2 linked regions of the Homo sapiens genome follow. The protein of the gene in region 1 interacts with the protein of each later gene in a pairwise test. Each region holds a gene or a part of one and is shown in the gene's direction. Other genes may lie near its edges.

The links. Proteins that work in one complex are often made in the same cells at the same time.
Region 2: the proteins of LAPTM4B (region 1) and SLC22A1 interact in a protein complementation assay, tested with the Homo sapiens proteins (one large-scale study listed by BioGRID).

What each region holds. Positions count from the first base shown.
Region 1 is NC_000008.11:97,799,788-97,803,287, forward strand, and holds part of LAPTM4B (lysosomal-associated transmembrane protein 4B), read left to right. Parts: intron 1-3,500. UniProt on the Homo sapiens protein: Required for optimal lysosomal function. Blocks EGF-stimulated EGFR intraluminal sorting and degradation.
Region 2 is NC_000006.12:160,120,445-160,124,614, forward strand, and holds the start of SLC22A1 (solute carrier family 22 member 1), read left to right. Parts: upstream 1-1,370; 5' UTR 1,371-1,491; coding exon 1,492-1,902; intron 1,903-4,170. UniProt on the Homo sapiens protein: Electrogenic voltage-dependent transporter that mediates the transport of a variety of organic cations such as endogenous bioactive amines, cationic drugs and xenobiotics. Functions as a pH- and Na(+)-independent, bidirectional transporter.

The sequences.
Region 1 (3,500 bases):
CCCCATCCTACATTTTTGGTTCTATCCTCTAACATTTCCTTTTATACCCCCTGACCCTGGCGTTCCAGCCACATTGAACTTGCTGTCTTGAGGAGATGTCCTTGTCTCAGTGGCATTGCTCATACTTGGAATTGTTCTTTTCCACACCTCTCAGGCTCCAAATCTTCATCTTTTGAGTTCCTGTTCAAATGCTCCCATCTCTGTTGCAGGTCCCTGCAACCCCTGACTGTAACTCTCCTTAACTTCCATGATTCTTTCTCGGAGCTCTTGTCACATTCATTGCTTTATGCTTTTTGTTTTTTGGGTACATGATGTATTTAACTTCATGTTCTGAGTCCTAGGGAGTTCTTCCTAAGCACTTAGCAAATATGTGTTGTAGGCAATTAGTAGCTATATATGATCAGTAGACTCCACGGGGGAATAATAAGCGGATTAAGAGTTGACAGGTCCCTAGGGACTGAGAGTGCGGGGAAAGCACAGGCGTAAAGCAGGTGTCTTAACACTGGCTTTAGAAGATCTAGAAAACTAGTAACCAAGAGCTTTTAACATGGTTCTTGTTAAGATGTGAAGAGGTAAGATAACTAATTTGAGTGGCTATTGTATGCCAGTCACCGGTCTAGGTATTTTATGTATATTCACTCATTTGAACTCTGGCCAGATGACATTCTTCCCTTCTGTAATATTACCCCTTGACCTCTTTTTTTTTTTTTTTTTTTTTTTTTTTGGAGATGGAGTTTTCGCTTTTGTTGCCCAGGCTAGAGTGCAACGATGCAATCTCGGCTCACGGTAACCTCCGCCTCCCGGGTTCAAGCAATTCTCCTGCCTCAGCTTCCGGAGTAGCTGGGATTACAGGCATGCACCACCATGCCCGGCTAATTTTGTATTTTTAGTGGAGACGGGGTTTCTTCATGTTGGTCAGGCTCATCTTAAACTCCTGACTTATGGTGATCTGCCCGCCTTGGCCTCCCAAAGTGCTAGGATTACAGGCATGAGCCACTGTGCCCAGCCCCGTTGACTTCTTGTTACACTTAGAATAAAATACAAAGTCAGGTGGTGGCTCGCGCATTTAATCCCAGGACTTCGGGAGGCCGGGGCAGGAGGATCACTTGAGCCTGAGAGTTCAAGACCAGTCTGGGCAACATAGTGACACACCCCATCTCTAATTAAAAAAAACAAAACAAGACTCCATAAGTAGCCCTACGGGACCCCAGACTCACACTGTACGACTTCCTCACCTTTCCATCTTCTCTGACCAGCTCCTTACCTCTGCTCCCTCCTCTAAAGCTTTTTGCCCATGAATCCCAAATTTATGTTTTTTCATTTCAGCTTTAAAACCCTACCCTGTTATGATAACAATAATGGAGTACATTGCCCTTGTGTGGTTCTTCATACTTTTTTTTTTTTTTTTGAGATGGAGTTTCGCTCTTGTTGCCCAGGCTGGAGTGCAATGGTGCCATCTCAGCTCACTGCCATCTCCGCCCCCCACTGGGTTCAAGCGATTCTCCTGCCTTGGCCTCCGGAGCAGCTGGGATTACAGGCACACACTAACATGTCCAGCTAATTTTTCTATTTTTAGCAGAGATGGGGTTTCACCACGTTGGCCAAACTGGTCTCAAACTCCTGACCTCAGGTGATCCATCTGCCTCGGCCTCCTAAAGTGCTAGGATTACAGGCCACCATGCCCAGCTCTTCATAATTTTTCAAAGCACATTCTTCTTATTTCGTTTGATCCTATTTCAGTCCACAATTTTCCACATACCTTTTCTCAAAAATAAGAGTATAGAAGAGTTGGGTGCAGTGGCTCACACCTGTAATCCCAGCACTTTGGGAGTCTGAGGCAGGCGGATCACTTGAGACCAGCCTGGCTAATATGGTGAAACGCTGTCTCTAATAAAAATACAAAAAATTAGCCAGGTGTGGTGGCAGGTGTCTGTAATCGCAGCTACAGGCTCCTACTGAGGCGGGAGAATCACTTGAACCTGGGTGGTGGAGGTTGCGGTGAGCCGAGCTTGCGCCACTGCACTCCAGCCTGGGCGACAGTGCGAAACTCCATCTCAAAAAAAAAAAAAAAAAAGTATAGAGGGATTGAAATGCCAAGAAAACTTGACAGTTTATCAAATAACATCTTTGCCATAAATCTTAATGCCAGTTGTGGGACTGGCCTGTGGCTCCTTTAAGCCTTGGAGTTGTAACAGAAAGTTTTCTTCAGATAGTTTTGTTAATCACACTGTTTAAAATGTGCTATGAAATTTCTTGGATCTTTGGAGAGAAACAAGATACTGTTATAATAATTACTGTGGAGATGTCACTGGAAAGGGGATCCAGACCCCAAGAGAGGGTTCTTGGACCTCGTGCAAGAAATAATTCAGATTGAGTCCATAGAGTAAAGTGAGTGTAAGTTTATTAAGTAAAGAAACAAAAGAATGGTTACTCCATAGGCAGAGCAGTAGCTTGGACTGCTCGACTGATAATACTATAATTATTTATTCATTATATGCTAAACAAGGGGTGGATTATTCATGAGTTTTCCAGGAAAGGGGTGGGCAATTCCCGGAAATGAGAGTTCCTCCCCATTTCAGGCCATATAGGGTAACTACCTGACGTTGCCATGGCATTTGTAAATTGTCATGGCGCTGGTGGGAGTGTCTTTTAGCATGCATGCTAATGTATTATAACTAGTGCATAATGAGAAATAAGGACAGCCAGAGCTCACTTTTGTCACCATCTTGGTTTTGATGGGTTTTGGCCGGCGTCTTTACCATCACCTGTTTTATCGGCATGGTCTTTGCGACCTGTACCTTGCACCGACCTCCTATCTCATCCTGTGACTTAGAAGGCCTAACCTCCTGGAAGTGCAGCCCAGTGGGTCTTAGCCACATTTTACCAAGCCCCTGTTCATAATGGAGTCGCTTTGGTTCAGATGCCTTTGACGGAGAAGGTAACTTTTCACTATATATTCTTTGTACAGTTCAGGTGTTTGGTTAAACACATGCTTGTAGTATCTGTTTAAATTAGTTATATGTATATGTATACTCTGGGAAGTGGCTCTTCTCATTATTACAATTTTTTTCGAAAAGCAATCAGCTTTTATTTGACAATTTGGAAAATACAGGAAGAAAAAAAGTTATTCCGGCCAGGCACGGTGCCTCACGCCTATAATCCTAGCACTTTGGGAGGCCGAGGCGGGTGGATCACGAGATCAGGAGTTCAAGACCAGCCTGACCAAGACGGTGAAACCCCATCTCTACTAAAAATACAAAAATTAGCCGGGTGTGGTGGCAGGCACTTGTAACCCCAGCTACTCGAGAGGCTGAGGCAGGAGAATCGCTTGAACCTGGCAGGTGGAGGTTGTAGTGAGCCGAGATCGTGCCACTACACTCCAGCCTGGGTGACAGAGTGAGACTCCGTCTCAAAAAAAAAAGAAAAAAAGTTACTTCGAATCCTACAATAATCCTGAAATAACCAATTGGGATTGTCATTTAAAAATGAACTTTTTTTTT
Region 2 (4,170 bases), on another chromosome or scaffold:
CCCCAATTAAAAAAAATAAAACCTTACAGAGAAATCCATCCAATCTTAATCAGTTTGATCATGAACTGAGATTGTTATAAATCTTTTATAACCTTTTACAAATTTTTTTTGTTAAACAGCATGTAAGTGCTTCAAGAAAACCTTGTTGTGCTTGTATTCCATTGTTCAACTTATGGAAAACCAAATAATATCCTTTTTAGTGTAGTCAATATGTTTACACACAGGATTCCTTTTACAAGATTAATTTTTTACAAACCTTCCATAACTTGTTTGAACCTTAAGCTTTATCTTATATAATTTAAAACAATCATTTAACCCTCTGAACTAGGCAAAAATTTACATTCCCATGCCTTCTTATATTATTTTACTAATGATACATTTTACTCTCCTTACTCACCTCACGTGTAGATCTGTTTTCAGTAGTCATCACTACATGTTATAATGGTAGCTCTTAGTAATTGTTAATTTTGGTGAAATACCCAGTAAGTTATTTTAGTTACGTACTTAGGTGCAGATGAGGTCTAACTATTTCCAGCATAGCTAGGGCAGGCCCTACCAAACTGCAAAGCAGGAAAGTTGAACAATTTTCAAAAGCCAAAGCAGTTTATGACCTTAAAGCATTTAGTCAACCTAGTTTCTGACTTGCATAATTTAGACCATGTCTATATTTTGAAGACATTTCTATTTTCATTTTACTGATAATTTAAAAGACAGCCTATTTAGCAAAGTCATACTTAAGTGAATTTGAAAATTGCTTAGACTTATTTACTTAATTTATGAACACTCTTTTACTTATAAGCCAATTTGGTAGACACAACATATAACAGTAAGTGTACATACAAGTAAACACATCTAGACATGTATACACACACACAAATGAAGAGGTGGAGCTTAAAACACCCAAATTGGGTGCAGTGTATACTGCTTGGGAGATGGATGCACCAAAATCTCACAAATCACCACTAAAGAACCTGCTCATGTAACCAAATAATACCTGTTCCCTCAAAACCTATGGGAAAAAAAAACTAAAAAAAATACTTAAATGGTATCACAGAACTAATTAGCCGAATACAGTATCTAGTACCTGGCTGTCACCCAATACTTGCCTCATACCATCACATCTAGAAAACAAGTAGATATTCTTTTTGGAAGAGCCCTGAGGGAGCTACTAGGAGGTTTGCACGGCCTGCTCTCCTGCCCTCTTCTTGCTCTGTGGCTGAACTTCAATTCTCTTCGGGCTTAGACCCCACTGACTCGCTCCCGGGCAAAGCAAACGATTTGATCAGATGGCCACGTGCATTCTTCCTTTTCCTGAAACCAGCACCATAGGGTAAAAGATTATTTCTACTTGGTTGCCTTCCAGATGTTTCACACTTGGACAGCAAACTGATTTCAAACCACTCCTTTTCAAAGATCTCTGAGGGAGACATTGCACCTGGCCACTGCAGCCCAGAGCAGGTCTGGCCACGGCCATGAGCATGCTGAGCCATCATGCCCACCGTGGATGACATTCTGGAGCAGGTTGGGGAGTCTGGCTGGTTCCAGAAGCAAGCCTTCCTCATCTTATGCCTGCTGTCGGCTGCCTTTGCGCCCATCTGTGTGGGCATCGTCTTCCTGGGTTTCACACCTGACCACCACTGCCAGAGTCCTGGGGTGGCTGAGCTGAGCCAGCGCTGTGGCTGGAGCCCTGCGGAGGAGCTGAACTATACAGTGCCAGGCCTGGGGCCCGCGGGCGAGGCCTTCCTTGGCCAGTGCAGGCGCTATGAAGTGGACTGGAACCAGAGCGCCCTCAGCTGTGTAGACCCCCTGGCTAGCCTGGCCACCAACAGGAGCCACCTGCCGCTGGGTCCCTGCCAGGATGGCTGGGTGTATGACACGCCCGGCTCTTCCATCGTCACTGAGGTAAAAAAGCCTCTGTAACATGGGAGTTCCTGGGACAGGGAGAAATATAAAGCAAATCCTATGAAGTTCAGTTCCATATCAGGAAAGAGGTAGGGGGCTATGTTTATTGTGCAGTTCGTGGGTGTCTGGCTGTGTCCCAGGCACGGGGCATTCTCTTCTCTAGTTTAATCCACCACAAACTCTGGGTCTTTGAGGAGGAAGCTGAGGCAGGAGAGAACAGCTAGCACAAGTCGGGGGCCAGGTTGCCAGGTTGCTTGAATGGGAGTTGACTGGGAGACCAGGAGCCTCTCTGCCTGCCCCACTGGCTTCTCCCAGAACTATCAACTTGCTCTGGGTCCCGCTTCCCCACCAATAGTACTGTGGGCCCCCTCCTTCTGCTCAAGAGTGATGACGATTGACCTCAATGATGGTGTTGAGGTGGCCTGGAATTGCCCTGGCTTGGAAGTGAGAATATTTGGTGGAATCCCAGCTGTGCCCCTTATTAGCTGAGCATCACTGGGTAAGTCACTGCCTCTCTAAGCCTCATTTCCTCATCAGTCAACCAGGGATGATGACGGCTGCCTCATAGGGGTGTGAGCTTCAGCTGGGATCTGTGAAAGCACTGAGCAAATCCAAACTGAGTCACACCGTGCAGTCCGATGGGGCCCATGGGATAGGGCGATGGCCTCAAAAGGGCCTTGCTTGAGTAGTTTACTTGGTTATTTGAGCATTTTGCTTTGAGAATCCTTTAGTAAAAAGTGTCACCACATTTTTTTCCCATCATGAGCCCTTTTGAAACTATTGCACGGTAACAAGTGTGGATGCTTGGTGGGTTGGAGAAGCTGTGGGCCAAAGCCCGTCAGGGGCCTTCTGTTAGTAACGAGCAGTGGCGTGGTTTTGGTGCAGGCACTGCTTCCCTGAAATAAGAGGTAACTGGGCCCTCCCTGCCTCTGGTCCTGCCCACTTGTCTGCCCCCACTACCCTCGCCCAAGCTCTCCGGACTTCTTGGGTCTCTGTTCTTCCTCTTTTCCCTTTCCTGAGTGGTATCAGCGGTGACACATTTAGGGCTATTACTGGAGGAAAGCTTAGGGTCCCTCCCCTCTGGGCCTGAGCATTGCTCTACCTGCTTGCCTGGAGCAGAGCAGGTGCCGGTGCAACTGGCTTTACGATGCTGAAGAGACATCTTGTCTCCAAGGCATCCTCCAACAATGGATGACAAGTTAGGCAGCCCACCTTCCAGGGATCTCCAACCATCTGACATTCCCACTGGGAATCTAGAAGCAGACCAGGATGAGGATGTGTTTGCTCTCTGGGACTGAGACATACTCTGCTTTGAGGAGATCAGATGTGATCATTCCTCCAGTCAGACATCCACCCAGTATGTTCGGCATACTCCCTCTATTCTGGCACTGGGTGTGATGCCGCAGGGGAGATGCAGAAGAAGATTGTGAGGTCCCTCAAGGAGTCTGCAGTCTTGTGGGGACTGAGAGGGGAAGAGGATGGCAAGAATGAGACCAGTGTTCGTTTAATGACAGCCCAAGGCCGCCTGTGGTGAATGCCATGAGCAGGGCGGAAAGGGACTGGTGGGCTCTAAGAAGGTAGAGATCTCAGCTGCTGAGCTCTGAGCTGATCATAGACGTCTTCTGGGAGGAGGTGGCTTTGAGCTGAGCCTCAGCTGGTATTTGGACCAGCAAGGAGAGGGGACAGGTGGAGTAGAGGGGAGGGGAAGTAGATCCCCAGACCAAGGGGAGAGCTTGAGCCTAGGCTCAGGGCCCAGGGAGTGTTTGCTGCATTCAGGGTGCAAGGAGCACTGATATGAGGGTCATGATATGAGGAGTTGTGGGGAGAACACTGGTGTCTAACCTTGGGGCCAGAACACGGAGTGCTTAGTGTGGGGTTGCCAGGTACAATACAGGATGCCCAGTTAAACTCGAACATTTGAACTTCAGATAATCCAACTGGATAGGATACTTACTTCCCAGATACTGCATGATATTTGGTACTGATAACTGAGACTGGAAATGCAAATATTGCATGAACATACTTATCCTAAAAAAAAAAAAGTTGTTTATCTGAAATTCAAATTTACCTGGGCATTCTGTATTTTTATTTGTGAACCCTGGCAACGCTACCTTAGTGCCCAACAAAGGAGTTTGGGTCTTATTTAGGCAGGCAAGCAAGGTGACCCTAGCTGGACTCGTGAATGGGTGGGAAGGGGCGGTGGTGGGATTGGAGGCTTCAGGAGAGGTAGAGAGATGCATGAGGAGGCCAAGAGTGAGCCCCGGTAAG